Linked DNA regions of Homo sapiens: region 2 is linked to region 1. A link means that fine-mapping ties the variant in region 1 to the expression of a gene that starts in the linked region. Tissue or cell type: whole blood. Region 1 holds a variant in brackets; the other region holds the start of a gene. All regions are shown on one strand. Distances are from middle to middle.

Region 1 (9,812 bases):
GGGGAGCAGGTGAAGGGCAAGTGACCATTTGGACATGACTATCAGCCTGAGAGAAGTATCTGGAAGAGAAAGCCAGAGGGGTAGGGGAGGTGTGGGGATGGGGCAGGCAGCGGCCTGGCAACTTCCTGGGCAAGCATGCTGGTCGCTGTTCCTGGTCCTCAGTGTGGCTATTGTCCCTGATGGTCCAGGGAACGGGCTCAATAGGGCCTCTGTCCCTCCCTGAGCAGGCCAGCCCAGCTCAGTGGTGTCCCACCCGGGCAGCTGGAAGGCGAGGGCCGACACTTCCTGTCCCCACTGCGAGTGTTTGGAGGAGCAGGGGGAGGACGGGGGCTCTCAAGACAAGCACCCATCTGTGTCCCCCAGAGAAGAGCTGCCCAGCTGGGGGAGGAGGCGGGAGAAGGGAGAGCAAGGCAGGGGATGCGTTCAACCCTGTGCCTCCGCCCCTCCCCTCCCAGCCAACTCTCCCTCTGAGCTGGAGCTGTCAGGAGGCCCATTCTGGCCCTCTTGCTCTTCCTCAAACAAGCCAAGCACATCTGTGCCTCACTCAGAGCCTCTGCACTTGCTGTTCCCTCTGCCAGGAATACCCTTCCCCCAGATGCCCACACCATTTGCTCCTGCTTCATTTGTCTCTACTCAAGTTGTCATGTCCTCAGAGACACCATCCCTGACAACTGTCTTTGAATATGACCTGCCACCATAGCATATCCATTGGTGTCAATTTCTTTACTATTTGTCATCCTGCAAGATTGGGAACTGCATTCTTTCCTCATCTTTCTTGTTCACTATGGAATGTCCCATGCCTGGAGCAGCACCTGGCACATAGTAGGTACTCAATAAATACACGATGACCAGTCAGACAAAAGTAGCATGCTTGAACACTGATCTGGCCTTCTGGGATGTGCTCAGGATGAGCAGAGCCCCATGTTCTGGGAGCATCTGGCCAGCATGGCTGGGGAGGAGTGACGTCACAGTGGAAAGGGCCCTGTGGGGCTGGAGCAGCCTGTGCAAAGGGCTAGACCACGGGAAGCATGGAGGGCTTGAGGCTTGGAGGCCAGGCCAGTCCAGGTCCTAGACCATATCTTAGAGTTAAATATCAGCCCAGGAGTATGGGAAGCCAGGGAAGCGCTGAAAATGCGAAAGTCTGCCTGGCATTGTGAGATCTCTTTGGCTGCTGAGTGGACAGAGGGGTTGGACATGGGGGGACCAGTTAGGGGGGTGCTGCCACATTGCTGGGGAGAGGTGGTGGGGGTGTGGTCTGGGGATGGGTGGCAGAGGGGAGAAGAGTGAGAGACCCCTGAGATGGCAGGAGGTTGAGTCAGCAGCACTTGGGCTAGCCTTGGGGGAGGAGAGCAAGGACTCAAGAGCAACTCCCAGGTGTGTGGCCTCAATCAGCTGCGGGGCTGTGGGGGCTGAGGCAGGAGCTCCCCTCTTGGCCCATGGTTGCCCTGGCTCTGACTGGGGGACAAGGCCAGGGTGGAGCAAGGGAAGGTGATGACGGTGTCTTGTGCCGGCAGTGATGGACGGAAGGAGGACTGGCCGTCACTGGACAGCAGGCAACAGTGATGGATGGCAGCCTCATGATAACTGTTTGCCCTGGCTCCTGTCCTCAGGAATCGCCTATAAACCTGTCATGTGAGCCTGCTCAAGGTGCCCTTGGGGGTATGATCCACCCTAAAGCTGATTTGAAAATCACCTCGGGGCTGGTAAAAAGAGGCCTTGACCTCTGTCTTTAGATTTACAGTCTAATGTGGCCAGGCATCCTGGCATGGTGCTATAATTAAACACACACACACTCCCCTGCAGGTGAGCAAATAGGCTCAGAGCAGGAACCATGTGAACACAGGCCACGGTGGCAGGCCAGGGCTTTCCCCACTGTTCCAAGTTGCCTGCTGGGCCCCAAAACAATTCTTCAGAGCCATGAAGGAGGACTCAACGGAAGGGGTGTTGAGTCTGCAGCGGAAGAAAACCCAGGAGGGAGAGGATGGAACCAGATTCTAGAGGGAAAGGTGGCCCCAGCCTCCCAGGGCTCAGTGTGCCCAGTATATGCACAGAGCAGGACTGCCAAAGTCTCATTCCACTGCCCACGGGTGCCCCACTTTCCAGAGGAGGAGGCCAAGGCCAGGGGACTCCAGCCCACACAGCCTGTGAGAGGCAGGGCCAAGCTCAGGCCTCCTGGGATCCCAGGCCAGTGCTAGGGAGAGTCTGAAGCAACTGTGAGGACAGAAGAAGGGTCAGGAGACCTCCAGGAGGCCTCGGCCCCTCCTGGAGGTGCCATGCTCAGCCCCAGGACCCTGCCATCCCACTCTGAGAAGGTTTCTCAGCCCCAGAGACCTGCTCTGCCAGGGCAGGACCCCCAGCAAGTCCACCGTCCCCAGTCCCTGGAGCACCCCACATGTGCCCCTTACAGAGCCCTGGCTGTCTCTCCTGCCCTTCCCTGGCTCCCAGAAGCCCAGAAGGCCAGAATCTCGCGAGTGGGAGGAACCACGTGGGGAGTCTTGGCTTTTAGAAGCCCTGGAGCAAGGACTTCCTGCTACGCCTCCACAGGGGGCATTGAGCCTGTGCCCTGAACTGGGCCTGGGTGTGCACAGGTCTGCAGCTGCACATGCACACACGCATGCATGCACACAGGGAGCGAGCGGAACGCACCGTGGCATGACCTGCCAACTCCGTTTTAAGTCAACTGACAAGGAAGTGAGTGGCCAAGGCAGACCCATGGCTCCAGAACCCCAAGGGAGGTAGCTCAGGAGCTTCCTGCTAAGCTCTTGGGTCCCCTGGACTTGGCAGCAGCCTGCAGCGGCATGAGCCTCTGTGCGAGTGTGCACAGGTGCATCGGTGAGGGGCGGACATGCCCGTGTACACCCTCGCCCCTTGGCAGCCCCGCGTACGTACATGGTGTGGGTGGCTGTGCAGAGCCCTGTGTGTTCCACCCATCTCCAGGGACTGGGCAGCCACAGGCAGCTCCAGATTTCTAAAAGTGATAAAAATAGCCACATGGAAAATTGGGAGAATCCCACCGAGGGAGGAAAACAGGCAACCACTAGCATCTCTTCTAGAAAATGTCTTTCTATTTCCCTGGCCGTGGACTGCCTGCAGCCACGTAGAGAGATGGCCACCATCCATCATGTGGCCCTGCGTCCCCTCTTCTAGCTGAGTACGAAGTGAAACAGAGCTCTGGCTGTGCGGTCCTGGAGACCTGGGTTTGAATCCCAACTTAGCCATTACTGGCGGCAAGAGCTTCGACAAGTTTCTGAAATGCTCTGAGCCTTGGTTTCCCCCGTGTAAGTAGGGATAATAAGATCGATCAGGCAGGCAGTCGAGAAGCTTTAAGGAGCTCATGAGTACCAAGCACATGGCTGGAATTCAGTTAACAATAGCCACCATCAACATCATCATCACCATTTTCTGGACATCTGCCTAAATCTCAGGTGTCCAAGGCCTTTGGACTCTATCTCCTCTACCAGCCAACCTTCTGAAAGCCCAGGAGAGTCTGCAATCCATCATTTTATCTCTGAAGGATTATATGGAAGTCTACCCAGACACCTTCAACAAACACAAGCCACTCATCCAAAATGGGTTCAGTGCTGAGGGGACCAGTGGGCGGTGGATGTGACCAGCCTCTGCCCCTCCCCTCCCAGCATGCTGGGTTTTCCCCTGGGGTCTCATTTAATCCTCACAGTAACTCTGTCAATTACCATCCACCGGCCCACAGCATGGAGAGGCCCAGAGAGGTGGAGAGACTTTTTCAAGGTCACACAGTGAGTGAGTGGCGGGACCCCTCCCCACGCCTGACTCCAGCCCAGCCTCTGCCTCCTGGCCTCTGAGCCTGATGTGCACTGGCACAAGGCGGGCACCCGTCCTGGGGGAGTGGAACGGAAGACTGTGGTCAGGCAGGCAGGAAACGGCCAGGAGGTCATGCGGGGGCAGGGGGAGCCTCTCCTGGGCCTAGTGAAATCCGCCAGGCTACAGGCTTTAAATGTGTAATCCTGAGTCACCGGGCTGGTCCCTGTCCCCTTGGAGGGACCTGAAAGTCAGCTATAGAAAGCTGATGGTTCTGTGCAGAAAGCCAGACCTGGGCCTGACTAGCTGGAAAGGACCATGCAATGACAACCGGGAGTTCAGGGCCCTGGGTTTGGATGCCAGCTCTATCAGGCATGTCACCTCCTCCTTCTGGGCCTTAGTTTTCCTAGGTGGAAAAAGGGTATATGTGCGTGCGCATGTGTGTGTGTGTGTGTGTGAGAGAGAGAGAGAGAGAGAGAGAGTTTAGGGAGGTGCTTCGGATGTGATAGCCTCTAATGTCTAAGCCAGTCTGACACAGAGAATTCACAGCTTTGCTGTGAGATGGGTGGATACAAGCAGCAATTCGGGGATGTAGCTGTATGTCCACCTGCTGCCCTCCTTGCCGCATGGCCACATGTGCCCCTCACACTTGCTCCACCTTCCAGTCCTCTACAGCCAGTGTTGGAGGAAGAGCCAAAGAAGTGAGAGCTCCGTGGGGTCTCTGTTCTCCCCACCCTCACCCCTTCCACCAAGACAGGCTCTCCAGGCCAAGGAGGTGAGGGGGCACGTGTCCCAGCTTATACGATCACCACCTTGTCTCAAGGAGACAAAGTCTGGGCCCAAGCCTTGGCGGCCAACTGCCCAGATGGAATGACAGGTCACAGAGTTGCTGAATTTAGAATTTTAAAAAATATTAGTGCCACAATAGCTTAAGTTCTTGGAGTCTCTAGAATTTGGGATAATGAATGTGTTGGAATTACAGACATGGAGAATCTTCATTTTAGAGAAGAATAATAACTGCAGTTGGAACACAGAAACACACGGAAGGTTTCAGAAGCACGTACTTGAGGTATACAGAATGATTATAGAATCTCACACTCTTAAAGTCACAAAACCAGAACACTCAAGTGTCAGAATCCTCCATTGTGGGAAGCTTCACTTCTCAGAATAATAAAGCTGCAGTCACATGACCTAGGGAATCTGAGGTTGAACATCTGGAACCTCTGGATATCTAGAACCTCTGGAATGTTCATTTGGGAGTCTCCCGGAACCTTGTAATCTTGCATTCCCAGGACCTCAGGAGGATAATTGTGGTTATGATCACCTGCAGCCACCACAGCTGCCAGAGCACCCCACCATCTCAGACCTGGCAATGGTGCTTTTGCCCAGCTGCACGTCAGAATTACCTGGGGAGCTAGGAATATGCCCTTGGCCAGGCCCACCCTGGATCTACTGAATTCAAATTTCTAGCACCAAAAACCAAACCAAAACCAAAAAAAACCCAGGTGGTTCTAATGTGAAGCCCGAGATGGAATCACTGATCTTGTCTAACCTCTCCTCCATATTACACATAGGGAAACAGAGACTGCAAGTAACTGGCCTAAGGATACACAGCACTGGTCCCCAGGCTCTTCATCAATGTCAGGCCTCCCAAGCCTCTACTTGCTTCCTCTACCTGGACCCCTTGGGTCCAGGTTTCCTGTCCCTGACTCACCGCATCTGTCTCAGAGGACTTCTGCCCCTGGGGTATTCCTAATGATCTTGGGTACCATGAAGGCTAAGACACAGTGAGACACACTGAGTTGCTAGGCTCACAAAGCCAGCCCCTCCCGTCCTCCCATTGACATGCTCAAAACCTCCAGGCTGCTTCAAGGGAGGTTGCTAAGGTCATCAAGGTCACTCCCCAGCCTCCAGGAAGGCCTGCAATGAAGAGGGGCCCCAGGCACAGGGAATCAGAACCCAGGGCTCCTTGCTATGTGACCTTAGGTGAGTCCCTTGGCCCCTTGAAGTCAAAATGGTCTCAGGGCAGGACGGTGGGCAGAGGGCCTCTGGGAATCCGTTCCAGCTCTGCCTCTTGACCTCACACACACTGGCCACACATTTAAGGGGATGGAGTCTTCAGTGTCCTTGGCTGGCTTGCTCCTGATCAGTTGGGAC[G/A]TTGCTTCTTATTTCTAACCTGGAATATTCCAACTGCGGTTTCAACCTTTTGCCTTCCTGGGTGAAGGTGGAGAATATCTGGTACAAATGCCCTTTGTTCAGAAGAAACCCCTAGCCCTACTGAGCCCAGGCTGAGGGTACCCCCTCACTCCTCCCTGCACCCTCTCCCAGGTCTGAAAGGCCTTGTTGATTCTGGTGGCAGCTGCACTCCCAACAAATGGTCTCATCAGAGGTTGTTGGAGTGACAGAGGCTGTTAGAGCCTCTGCCCAACTTCAGCTTAATTCTGATGCACTCATATCTCCTAGGCAGTTGAGCAGGGCAGGGGTCTGGCTGGGCCACAGCATTTTCTCCAACGAGATGGGAATTTCCTGCCAAGAACCCCTTGTAGGCTATGGAAAGAAGGCCCAAGAGGCAGCCTCCGGGAATGGGGAACTGAGAAGCAAGAAATTCCTAGACCAGTGTTTCCCATGGGTGATGGGGGAAGCTTGTGAAAATGCAGACTCTGACCCAGCAGGACTGGGGTGGAGCCTGAGGACCCGGGCTGCGCATTTTTGATAAGCTCCAGGTACTGCCACTGCTGCCGGTCCACTGACCACACTTTTAGGCAAAGCCTTTAGATGTTCATAAATAAAAGTATTTTTATTCCTACAAAGCTCTTAACTTTTGTTCAGCTTGGCTTTCGTCATTTCCAGCTTTGTTAGCTCATAAGACCTACACGGCAGCCTAGAGGGACAGGATGCATATTGCTGGGTCCACTGCACAGAAGGGGAAATTGAGGTGTGGCAAGGGCAATGGGCTTATTCAAGGTCGCCCACTTGGCTCTGCTCCTTCCTCTAAACTCCTCACCTATGGCTGGTTAGAACCAAACGCGTTGGTAATGAGTGGCCTCACTGAGTAATTCCTTGTCTTGCCTCCAACTCAGCTATGTGGTCCAAGGCTGCTGGGGGTGTCCAGGGGGCCCTTGATGAACTGTGCTGGCTCTCTGAGGCCTGAGCTGGTGGGATAAGGTGGGGAGGAGGGGATTAGAAATCACCCAGGGCTCAAATCCCAGCCATGCCCTTGGCTCCTGTGTGACTCTGGGCGAATCCCTTGACGTCTCTGAAGACATCAGTGATGTGCTGGTACATGGAGGATGCTCAGTCAACATTAGCTCCCTGCCTTTCTTTCCTCCTCCACATCCTGAGTCTTGTTCATTTCTTCCTTTTTTTGCACATATTTATGACAGCACAGCCTCTGAAGCAAGACTGCTGGGGAACATGTCCAAGCTGTGTGACCCTCGGCAAGTCACTTAGCCTCTCTGTGCCTCAGTTTCCTCCTCTGTGCAATGGGGATAAGAAGAGTGTCCAGCACAAGGGCCATGAGAAGATTAGAGGAGTCAATGGGTGAAAAGTGCTCAGAGCAGTGCCCGGAACACAGTGAGCGCTCCCTGTGCGTGTAGCTGCTGTGCTGTTAATATGTTTCCCTTATGACGGGGCCCTGCTCAGAGTGGGCACCACGGCAGACACTGTGGATGGCGCACTGAAGCCACAGCAACGCAATGGCTCACACTTGCTGAGCACTCACTATGTGCCAGGTGCTGCGCTAAGTGATTTTCTGCCAGCCTTCCCCCTCCCCGGGATCACAATCAAAAGAGAATACAAAATACTAAGCCGTTTGTGCAGGGTGTTTTGGGAACACAGAGGGAGGACTGATGCATGGGGAGGGCTCAGAGGGCCTGCGGGAGGGAGGGGCACAAGGCTCTGTTTGAGCTTCACAGTCCCCAGGAAGGAGCAGAGGAGCATGGGCCCCTGTTGGGTTTTACCCCTTGTCATCATGCCTACTGCTTTGGGGGCACCCCTCCACCTCACCATCACCCCAACCTGTCAGGGAGAGACCTGTGGCTCCCACACAGCCAGGGAACTTGGAGGAAGCCAGGCAGGGAGGAAGGCCTGGGTTCACAGTGCCTCCTGCAGCCTGATTTCTGCCAGGGCTGGAGATCAGCAGGTCTACAGCATGTCCTAGAGGATGGACCCCCATCCGTTGTTGTGGGCAGAGGGAGCAGTGGGAAAGGCACGGCCTAAGGTCAGACTGACTTGGCCTGATCCTAACCAGCTGTGGGACCAGGGGCAAGTTATGTAATCTGTTACAAAAGAAAAGAGGAAGAAAGGATGAGAGACAGAGATGAAGAAAGAGAAGAAGAGTGGGCACATGGGCCACAGATGACATCCAGGTGAGTGTAAGAACCCAGCCAGCAAATGAGACGAAGGTGCTCCGTGAGCCAGGCATGAGGAAGGCCTGATGTCCTCGGGCTCCTCACCCCCATTCCATGCACATTTCTTCCCTGCACCTGCTGCCCCGTTTCTCTGAGCCCTGAGCCTTGGAATGGGAGGGAGTGGGGGCGGTGTGTTGAGGAGCCATGTCTCCAAGTCAGGCCAGGTCAGTGGTGCCAAGTCCTCTAACCCACAGGCTGGGATCTGGCCACCTTGCCCCAGCTGGGCCACCTCCCACTCCACACAAAGCCACTGGGAGCAGGAGGCACCCAACACAGGCTCCACCCTGGGCAGCCACCCCAGACATGGTGGAAAGGGAAAATGCTGCCCTCACAAATATGCCTCCAAGACCCCATGGCAGTTGAGGCAGGGGTCAGCTCACAGCAGCCACCAAGGCCTAAACACCCTCGCTCGCACACCTCTGATCATCTCAGCAAATGTGGCTGCTCGCTGGGCAGTGGAGCAAATGGTATAACTTCACAGTTCTCAAAGCGCGTTCACCTGTCTGATCGCCTCTGGATCTCACAGAAGCCCTGAGAGACAGGCTTCATTGCTGATGCCACTTCATGCATGGGGGTGTGGGGGCCCAAGGGTAAGGTCAACTTGGCCAATGTTGAACAGCTAGAGAGACAGCCCTGGGATGAGAGCTCGGGCCTTCTGACCCCAAGGCCATGCTCCCTCTGCCTGCCAGGCAGACACAGACCTCGCCTGGGAAGTGACCTCAGGAAGTAGGAGACAGACTTGTGCCAGGACCGGCCCTGGGCTAGGCACGACTCACCAAGGCAGGAGCACATGGGGCATAGAAGGGCATAGGGGCTGCACCATGCAAGAGGACGTGTTTGGGCTGAACCTGGGGGAGATGAGAGAGTCACTGGCTAAGGCCATAGCACAGGTGGAGTGGGGATGAGAAGGCTGAGCAGAGGTCAAACGGCCCAGGCTGGGCTACCTTCCAGGACTGGGGCAGGGCAGAGTGAAGCCCACCCAAAGAGGGGCATTCTCTGTCCCCTAGGGGCCAGATGGGGATGGGGGAAAGATGAGAAACCTGGTTGAGATTTCTTACCTCTTGAGGGCCTTAAAACCAGGTTCTGGGGAAGGGGTGCTGTCCTGACAAGTTAGGGTTCAGAGAGGAGAGCTCTGAGGCCCTGGATGGTTGGGGAAGACTCCCTGAGAGAGGTGGGCTCAAGCTGGGCTCTGAAAGGGGGATAGGAGAGAAGAGATTCGGGAAAGGCATTGCAGACTCGGGGACAGTGTGAGCAAGGCCTTGAGGCTGAGAAGCCCAAGGGGTGTGTGCATGCACGCACGTTTGCATGTGTGCACATATGTGTCTGCGTGCATGCATGAAATTAAGCAGCTGCAGGGGTGGGTCAGGGAGAAGGAGAGGGGCTCCGGTGGGTGTTGCTTCCCAGGTATCCGGGCTGCTTCTCATCTCCCTCACACCAACCCTCCCATCAGGTACATGAGCCTCACTTTACAAATGAGGGCAGATCTGGCTCAGGAAGCCCCACGGCCTAACAAGTGATACCAACAGTGAGGGCTGCCACTTACTTACTGAGTGCTTGTGGGATGCCAAGCCCTGCATTAGACGCTTTCCACACACACTCTGCAAGGATGGTGAACCCATTTTACAG
Region 2 (9,812 bases), 31 kb after region 1:
ACGAGGTGTGGTCTTCCCTCTGAGTCCATGCCTGTCCAGTCAACGTAATCTGACAGAGGGAGGGTCAGGTTGCCTCAGCCAACAGCTTCTCAAATGACGGTCCTCCTTGCCTGAGTCACACTTCAGCTTCCCAAGGGTGGCCAAGAGAGCTGGGAGCATCCTCCCGAACTCTGGGCTGGGATAGAATGGCCATTACTCTCAGGCCCTGGAGCTGCCCCCTAAACACACACACACACACACACACACACACACACACACACCACAAAGGCTGCTGGGAACCCACCTGAGCTCCTTAAGCCCACTCTCGAACATAGGCACCTCATATTCTTGGGCAGAAATGTGGCTTTGTTCCACACATCCACACTGGTCAGGCAGCCCGTGGGCTTATCTCCGTCTGTTGAGGGCACATCCAAACCCTCGGAAAACTGTCAAGACTGGGGCCTTTTAAAGGAGGACACTGTATGTACTCCTCTAAGGGTTTTAATGGCCATGTCCATACAGAAGGGCTGGGCCCAGGGAAAGGCCATTTGTTAAGCCTTGTGACACCCTTGCTACTGTTCTCAAACCTCCAATGGGTAGACCTGAGCAGCAAAGAGGAGGTTCATTGCTGCAGAGGCTGATGCTCTAGGAAGAGCTTCCTAAAGGTTGGAACTATCCAACAATGAAGAGGTTTTCCAGGAAGGACACTGACAGGTGTCCTGAGCCAAAAATGTTCTCTGCTCAAATAGGTGTGGGAACTGTCAAGCTGAAGAAAGGTTAACAGGTTTTGCACTGCAGGAGTTCTCAGGGCCTTTCCTGTGCTAGTGGGCACTGTGTGTTTCCAAGGGAAAGGAAGGACACTGTGTCTTCCAAATGTATTTGACCACAAAGTCCCTCCCCCAACATTCACAAAGTGGGGGTCTCTTGACAGTAGGGCCACACCTTCCAGCTACGTCTGTCCCTGGAGAAAGAGGGAAAGAGAACAGCTGCCCTAAGAATTCTACCTGAATGGAGTGAGACAGCCACATCTCCCTGGAGGCTGGAGGGTACAGGGACTACCTGGCAGGGGCTCTGGGCAGCCCTTCAAGGGGCCCAAGAGGCCATCTTCACAAGGAGGTAACTCAGCTTTTCCAGAAATGACTCCCATAGCCCCTTTACGGTTGTGAATTTAAGTTCCAAACAAGACTTGGCAGGGAAGACCCCATGCAGCCCAGCCCCTACTCCATCTAAGAACTGCCTTCCTTGGGTACCTGGAGAGAGAGAAGGGGCTCAGCCAAGGGCCTTAGGAATCCCTTTCCAAAAATGTATCGTTGTTGCCGTAGATCAGGTTTTTGAAACTGGGTTTCACGGGGCCTAGTTTGTAGACCCAGAAGCCTTTTAAGAAACTGTGCAAGGTGCTTGTGTCCGCTTTGGCCTGGCACCCTCACCACAAGCTGGGAAGTCCCCACAAGAATCCAAGTCACCTCCTGGTGCTTGCTCCTGCACCAGGAACTCTGGTGTGAACTCTGCCATCTCTCTCTCTGCTCTCAGGGCCAGTGTGCCACTCAGAACCGTTGGCTTATCTTCAGCTTCCAGAGCTGAGGTTCCAGGGGCACAATGGGCTTCTGTGCCCCCATGTCCTCACCCCCCCTCAAATCCCAGCTGCATTCATGGTGTTTTGCTATTGTGGTGGGAGCAGCCTGGGGGTGGTGCAGGAGGGGGTGGGCTCTTGGCACAGGGGTTGGCGCAGACAGGCCGTGGTCAGTGGTCAGCATGCAAGTCACATCCGCAGGCACTGCCACTGGGCCTGCCAGGCCTCGCACAGAATGGTGATGCTCCTGGGCCCCCTGGGTCCCTCCGTAGAGTCCCCTCCGGCCCACACACGACTTGCTTCCTCTCCGACCAGCCCCTTGGTGGCATTGGGGTGGGGGGTATTTTTTCTTGCCTTCTCAGCCAGTTGCTATTTTGGAGCCATATTAGGTCACCAGCTAAGCCCTGGGCGCAGGAAAGGCCTGTCCTCAGGAACACAGCTGAGGCTTTGAGAGGGTTTAGGAGGCAAAGTGGGTGGGGGGTGAGGATGAGTGAGCCTGAAGCCAAGAGAGCCTTCCGGAAGTCAGCAGGCACAGCCCTCCATCACCTCCGAGGAAGCCACTGGCCTGTGAACATCAGAGAAGCCCCTCTTGACTCCCCCAGCCCTCTCTTGTTTGAACAGGTCTCAAATACTATAGATATACCATCCTGGGGTGTAGCAGAGACTAAATTTAACAGATAGGTAAGCTAAGGCCCAGAGAGAGACGGGGTTCCCTGAAGTCAGGTTGTGAAAGACATTTCCCCACCACTGCACTATACAGTATAACCTTTTCCTGCTCCTTTCACACTGTGTGACTTTATGGGGAAACTGAGGTACGCAGCAATGAAGTGACAGAGGGCAGTTCTCACTGAGCTCCGGTTGGGATCCTGGATGCCAGAAATTTTCAAAAAGCAGCACAACATCCTATTCTTATAGGGTACTCTTGATGGTTCCAAACTCCCAGGTCCTCTCAGGGGAGACCCACAGGTGGGGAACAATGCCACCATGGTAGGGGGAGCAGAGGGAGGCTAGAAGAGGTTGATTAGGGGTCCACACTTGACCTGTGGGTCATGTTCACCCTTCTCCCAGGGTGAGAAACTCCCGTGGGGCTCCCACAAGCACCCCCATCAAATCACCCACCATTCATACCCTCTATCACCTTGTCTGTTTACTCATCCGTGGCCCCCACTAGCCTGTGGCTGTGAATCCCCGGGTCCTGCCCAGAGCTCAACAAATGTTTGGTAAGAGAACAAACAACTGAAAAGACGCATGCACCAAAGAAACACCCCACAAACGGTCCTCCAGTCACTGGTCACCTGAAGCCAATTCCCTGAAGAGGCAGAAAAGTCTCTTACAAGAAAGAAAGATCCCCAGCCAAGAACCATTCCTCACGTGGAGAGAATGCTTTACAGTTTACAAAGAGCTTTGGCATAGAAATGCTTTTGCCTGACACCAAAGGGTGCACTTTCAGACTCATCTTCCTCCTCTGCACCCAGCCCCCTCCCACGCCTGTTCTACCCACCCAGGTCAACAGGTCAGCCTGGGTAGTGTTGGCCTTGGGCCAGCATTTTATATGTCCATGCCTCCCCTAGTAAATAATGGCAGAGTTGAACTCAAGGGCGACCCTCTGCCTCCCTCTCTTACCCCCAGCACACCCTTGCGTACATAGGCTTTCCTCCCCAACCCATTCAGGACTCTGACTCTCCTAAAACTCACCGGTGTGCCCAGGTCTGGAAGGAAAGTGACCCCCATGTGTGTCCTCCCCCGAACACACCTCTTGCATCTTTGCAGAGAAAACCCCCACAAGGGGAGGAAGTGAAGGCCACAGATGGGTGTCTGAAATTCCCAAATGAGGCAGGAGTAAATGGAGGGAGGGGAGGAGTCCAGCCCACGGAAAGGAGTGGTATCTGGGCAGGCCCTGGAGACTCTTCAAAAAGGGCTGGGAGGTGGTGGCGATCTGTGTATTTATCTTGCTGGCAAAGAGGCGCTGCCCAGTCAACTTTGTAACTGAATCCACCAAACAGGCAGACTTTGCAACACAGCCGGCCCAGGTTTCTGCAGAAGGCGCTGGGCAGCTGGAACCTCTCCCCCCCCCTTTCTAGCCCCCCTCCCAAGAGCTCAAGAGGATTTCCCTTTCATTTCCTTCGAGGCTGGGAGGGCTGGGGACAGCGCAGTCTGTGGGGTCAAGCCCTCAGAAACCACTTCCTATGTGGCTGGGGGAGGGCGAGCAGCTGGAGGACGTATCTGGGGTCCCCGAGTGAGAACAGCAGGAGAAGCCCTCTGGGCAGTCACTGCTCTCCAGGGTGCCTTTCGGGTCGGGAACCGCAGAGGTCGGAGAAAAGATTTTAGGCCCTTCCAGAGGAGCTCCGAGCAGAATCTGCACTCTCGGTCCCAGCCCGCGGTGGCCAGGACGAGGATAAGGTTGGGCGTGAGAAGGACACTTCGAAGGGGCTCCCCGCCCAGGCCGCACCCCAGCTGTCTGAAGAAAATCCGGAGACAACCCCTCCTCAACTCCCTCCCCCAACCCCTTTGGAGCAGGGCTGCCCTGGCAGGGAGAGGGGGCGGGAGAGCTCCGCCCCGGCCTGCATTGCTCCAGCCCGGGCTCAGCCGGGAGGTGACGCGCACCCGGCACCCCGGGGACTTCGGGCGGCGAGTTTGGCAGAGTTGAACGAAGCCAAGCCAAGCCGGGCCCGGCAATGCGGAGCCGGGCCGCGCCAGGCCAGGAAGAGCGGGTCAGACAGGGAACGGCCCGCCACGGTGGGGCGGTGGGGCGGTGGGGCGGTGGGCGGGGGCGCGCGGGGGCACCCACCTCTCCGCGCTGCAGCTGGAAGAAGCTGTTGAGATAGCTGGAGTGCAGGGGCGAGCCCAGCTGCTCGGGGCGGCCCTTGCCGAAGGCCAGCTCCGGGGGTGCGGCGCCGGCGGTCGGCTCGGGCCGGAAGGCATCGAAGGCGCTAGCCTGGTGCGTGTCCTGCAGCGACAGGTAGACCCAGTTGAGCAGCTGGGCGGGCTGGTACACCGAGGCGGCGCTCGTGTCGATGGCCGACAGCAGGCTCATTTTGTGGCGGCGGTGCCGGCCCCTCCCCGGCCGCCCGCTCGCGGCCCCCCTCCGCAGCGGAGGGGCGGGCACCGGGGAGCCTGTGCCCACTGCCCGCCTCCCGAGCCCCGACGGTGATCGCCCCGCGCCCTGCGCCCCGCGCGCTGCCCGCAGCCGCTGCCGCTGCCGCCGCCTCCCCCCGACTGCGGCCCCGGCGCGCGCAGGCGGTGGAAGGAGGCAGCGAAAGTTGGGCAGGAAACTTTTGGCCCCGCCCCTCCGCCCCGCCCACTGCGTCCCGCCCCGCCCGGCGATCCGCTATCTGCCTCGCGGCTGACCCCTCCAGCGGCGGCTCCGGGGGTGGGGTCCACGATGCCCCGCCGCCCACTCCCTGCCCCGCCTGGCACTGTCCTCGCCCTGCATTGGCTGTCTCGTTGAATATGAACCGTCAGGGGTGGGGAGAGAGGGGAGTGAGGCTCATCTGCATATGCAGCACGGCGCGGGCCCGCCCATGCGAGGCCCCGCCCAAGCCCCACCTCGTCCCAGCCCGGCCAACCCAGCTCCCCGAGCTGCCGGGAGCTCAGTGCAGCCCCGGCCTAATCAATTTCGTCTCCCTCTGTCGTCAGCGCTCTTGTCTCGTTCTTTCCAAATCCTCTGCAATTGTTTTTCACTCACTTTTCCTTTCCTATTTTCCCTCCTTTCTCATACTCCTTCTTTCTCTCTCTCTTAGACTAGTACTAGTCTCCTGTGTCCGTCGTCCTTGTATGTGGCGCCCTCCGTGTGTGTGTGTGTGTGTGTGTGTGTGTGTATGTCCTTCTCTTTCTCTCACTCTTCTTGTCTCCTTTCTTCTATTTCCGTCTGGTCTGATGTTTCTCCCTGTCTCTCCCGCTCCTCTCTCAGACGCGTGTACACAGACGCACACACTTCTAACTCCCTCCTCTCGCTATCACCATCGGACCCTCCCCCTCCTACTTAATTCCTTCCATCTGCAGAATCACTTTGCGGGCCGGCTGCGCCAAGGGGGGCCCGGGTTCCTGCCCCAGGAAAGACTCCCCGCCCCCTCCCCCCCCCCTTCTCCTATTTCTGCTCTGGGCCCGCCTCGCTTCTCGACCCTCTTCCTCCACCCCGGCTCCAGCCCTAGCCCGCCCCGGTGCCTTGGCGAGTCGCCAGGACACCAGCCTGGGCCGGGGGAGCTCGGGAAAGCGGCTGTCACCCATCTCGCTGGGACAACTCAGCTAGTCCAAGACTGCCTGGAGGGAGCCCCGCCCCCGCCTCCGCCTCCGCCTGACGCCCCAGGAAGCCCCGGGGCCTTCACCGTCTCTTTCTCCGGGTGGTCTTTGCTGCGCCAGCACCGGGGACCTAGCCCAGAGGAACTCACCGCCTGGCTGGGACCGAGTCACCTCTCCCACTTTCAGTCTGGCTCTGGAGCCATTCCGCCCAGCGTTGGAGTGCCAGCTTGGCCACCGTCCAGCGGAATGACCTCTGCATGACGCCTAACCTCTGCGAGCAAGCCTGTTTTCTCCTCTGTAAAATGGGAGCAGTCATCCTCCCGCCGCCGGGGACATTTGTGTGCTTCCCAGCTTGGGTTTGGTAAGCGGAAGATATTCCATAAAGGACAGCTCTTCCCCGCCACCCACTCCACGAGTTACTCACATCACCTGCAGGGCACCTAACCACATCTATGGTCGCTCGCACCACGAAGGCCTTCAGTGATGACCAAATGCCACCCTTTTTCACCAACCAAGAGGCCCTTGGATCTCAGATCTCCATCTTGTCTATCAATTTGCAGTTATTAATACAAACGACAGCATATGTATCAATCATGTCTTCATATTTTCATTCATCAAGAACACATCTATACAGTACCCTTTATATTTTTAAACAGTATTAAACCTATTTGTTTAAAGAGTAGGTACACGGTTCTTGCAAATGGCTCACCTGTAATCCCAGCACTTTGGGAGGCCAAGGCAGACAGACTGCTTGAGCCCAGGAGTTCCAGACAAGCCCTGGAAACATGGCAAAACCTCATCTCTACAAAAAAATGCAAAAATTAGCCGGGCGTAGTGGCGCATGCCTGTGGTCCCAGTTACTCAGGAGGCTGAGGTGGAAGGATCACTTGAGCCCAGGAGGTGGAAGCTGCAGTGAGTCGAGATCATGCCACTGCACTCCAGCCTGGGCAACAGAGTGAAACTTTGTACCCCCCGCCCCCACACCAAAAGAAATAGTTGGGATTATCTCTGGAACTCTGCTGCTGTCTTTGAGCTTCCAAGGATGGAGGTAGGATTTGGAACCACTGATAAGACCTTCCCTAGATTTTATAGAGAAAACTGCTGTTCAGGGAGGGGACATAACTAGGAATCTGACACCTGCTTAGAGAAACCTCTGATCCTTCCCTGTGTCCTTCAGAGTGATTTGATGCCAAGAAGGTGTTTATCATGCCTGGTGACCACATTGATGGCCTCTGCCTCTTTCTCCCCAACATAGTTTCTACCCAGAGCCTGGAGCATAGATAGTAAATAATCAGGAAATAGTTGCTGGGTTGATGATTGAATGAATAGGTGGAGAGACGCATGGATGCCCAGATTTTGCTCCTCTTTGAAGCCTGAGCGGCTTCTTTGGTTTTGTACTTTTCTCCCTCTCCTTGCCCACAGGACAGCTGCTCAACATGTGGGCTCTGTACCCAGTAGGTGACTAATAAATATGAGCATCCTATAGGCAGTTTGCCTGGATGGCAACTGATTGACCTAAGGTCAGCCCTCAGCCAGCTGCTGGGAATGCATGCTCCAGGATCCCCTGAAACAACATGTACGGTGGGAGAGGGTAATAGGTGAGAGTGACCAGATGGGTATCAGAGGCCTAGGTACCAGGCCAGAAGACCGGGCCACGCCCAAACTCTGCACCTTCTTGCCCTATCATGTGCACACTAAGGAACTCTGCATTTAAAATGTCAGAGGTTCCAAGCCCTCACTTTACAAAGGAGGAGGTACCATGGCCCAGAGAAGGAAAAGAACCATCCCAGGGTCTCTCAGTAAACCTGATAGCTAAGCCACCTGCTCCTAACCCACTACTACCTCCCAGCTCTCTCTTCATTGATCCCAGTGTGGCAGCATTCAGGTGTGGCAGCTCTGGCCCCATATACTGTCCTCAGACTGGAAGGCAGGAGGGAGCACCCAGGTGAGGCTCACATCCCTGTCCCCTTCCCTGTCCAGTGGCTCCAGCCATCCCACAGTCTCCAGAATGGGTCAGTGGAATGAACACAAGATTTGGAGGAAAGACCTGGCCCAGTGACCTTGGGTAGGCCTGCCCTCTCTGTAAACCTCAGTTTTTCCAGGTATCAGATGGGAATGTTGATCCCATCCTTACCAACTTCTACAGTGACTGACAGGATCCAAGGAGGATGCAAAGAGGAAGGAGCTTTGCTGTTCCCTGAGTGAGTAGGCAGTCATGCGTGACGGGAGGGTGATATTGATACTTGCAGTAACAGTAATATTCAATTTATCTGGAGAAATGTGGGCAGGAGGGGACAAGTAGGAAAAAGTCTGCTCCTAAAGTTGCCCAGGTAACAGGTCTGATAAGTGTTTGGTGGAGTATCAAACCAAGAGCCTTGAGCTCAGAGAAGCAGGAGAAACCTGGGCAAGAAGAGGAAGCAGTTGGTCTTTATGAGGGAGTCAGCCTTCAAATTCAGCCCAGGAGGCAAGCAGAGATGAGCAGGGGCAGAAGATGGGGCTTCACAATCCTGTGCAAATTGATGCTTCTCATTTCTGTAAAAAACGCCCCATGGTGATTTATCAGGTGAAGGAACCCCTAACCCTCTTCAAACCACCCACACTCCATGTGTCAGGAATAAATAGCAAAGCACACACTGACAAAGCTAAGATTTGCCTCTCCTTTAGGCCAGGGCTGGGCATTGGGTTCCTTTGGACTGTGTGTTGACACAGAAGGTGTCAGTTTACAGCAGAGATGGCAAAATGGCAAATACTCTCCTTACAGGCACCACTGCCCCATCCCCCACCCAGGACAGACCTCTCTGAGTGCGGATCCCCTTCCCAGGCAAGACTTCAGGTTCCTGCTCAATACAGCACCCCACGTCACCACTAATGAGATGCTGGAATTGGCCCTGAAGACGCAAATTATTTGCCATGTTAACTTTATATCCACCTTCCCAGGCTGCTCTCTAAACCCTATGGTGACTGTGCAGAATTATTAGGTTGGTGCAAAAGTAATTGCTCTTTTTGCCATAGAACCAACCCAGTGAGCTAAAATCCAGGTTTCAAGGCACCTTTACACACACACATACACACACACACACACACACTCTCTCTCTCAAGTCACCTTTACATACACACACACACACACACACACACACAGAGTACCTCCTCCTTCCATGGATGCAGCCCTGCTGTTTACACTAACCAGATTTCAGCCCCAACTAGCCCCCAACTTCTTTGTGCAGTGCACAGATGGCAAAACCATAAGGGCAGTCTGACCACTCCAGGCCCCACCCACAGGCTCTTGAGTAGCCTTTAAGTTTATCTTGAGCAGCAAAGGGTGGGTAGGTCCTTGAATCTTAAACTCAGCCTACCGCTCCTTGCAGGTTCCAAGGTGTGGAAAGTGCCTGGGGCTTTGGAGACTGTCACTTCCTGGGCTGTGTGACACTGACAAGTTGAGTCTCCTCCCCTGGACCATTTCCTAGTGTATAAAATCTTCCCACTGCTGTTGGAATCCCAGATGACACGGGGAGGCAGGAGACACTTTGAGGGCCCTGGCCTCTAGAAGCCCTAAGAGAATGCCTGCTTGGTTTCATGGCTGGACAGTATGACATGGGCATGAGGGGTCCCAGCCTGGGTGTGAGGAGCCTAGGGTTTGTGTGTGGTCTGGGAAAACTGGCAGAACACCCTGGACCTAGAAGTCACTGGAGCAGGCCTAGTGGGCTTCCTGCTCCCTGAGGAACCATCCTCAGAAAAGTGGTGTCTAATGTCATATAGGAGCTACGGGCAGCAATCACATAGTAGCCCCCTCTTATCCATGGGGAATACATTCCAAGACTCCCAGTGGATGCCTGAAATCGCAGGTAGTTCTGAAACACACACACACACACACACACACACACACGTGCGCACACACGCGCACAATGTTTTGTCCTATACATACATACATACCCACGATAAAATTGAAATTATAAATTAGGTACATTAAGAGATTAACAGGTCGGGTGTGGTGGCTCATGCCTGTAATCCCAGCACTTTGGGAGGC

The links. PIP is the estimated chance that this variant, and not a neighbour inherited with it, causes the effect.
Region 2: ZCCHC24 starts here. The variant in region 1 is fine-mapped to the expression of ZCCHC24 in whole blood (TOPMed, PIP above 0.99).

The regions. Positions count from the first base shown.
Region 1 is chr10:79,409,546-79,419,357 of GRCh38, forward strand. The region is part of intron 2 of ZCCHC24 (zinc finger CCHC-type containing 24); the gene reads right to left. Among named protein-coding and RNA genes, the nearest start is that of ZCCHC24, 31 kb to the right of the region's middle. RefSeq lists enhancers at 3,353-3,863, 3,864-4,372. The variant G/A (reference allele first, on the strand shown) is at 5,935.
Region 2 is chr10:79,440,858-79,450,669 of GRCh38, forward strand. ZCCHC24 (zinc finger CCHC-type containing 24) reads right to left here and starts at 4,767. Exons shown (of 4, transcript NM_153367.4): 1 at 4,338-4,767. The coding sequence starts at 4,583. LOC105378383 (a long non-coding RNA gene) reads left to right here and starts at 5,384. Exons shown (of 4, transcript XR_946104.4): 1 at 5,384-7,989. RefSeq lists silencers at 4,620-4,679, 4,690-5,199.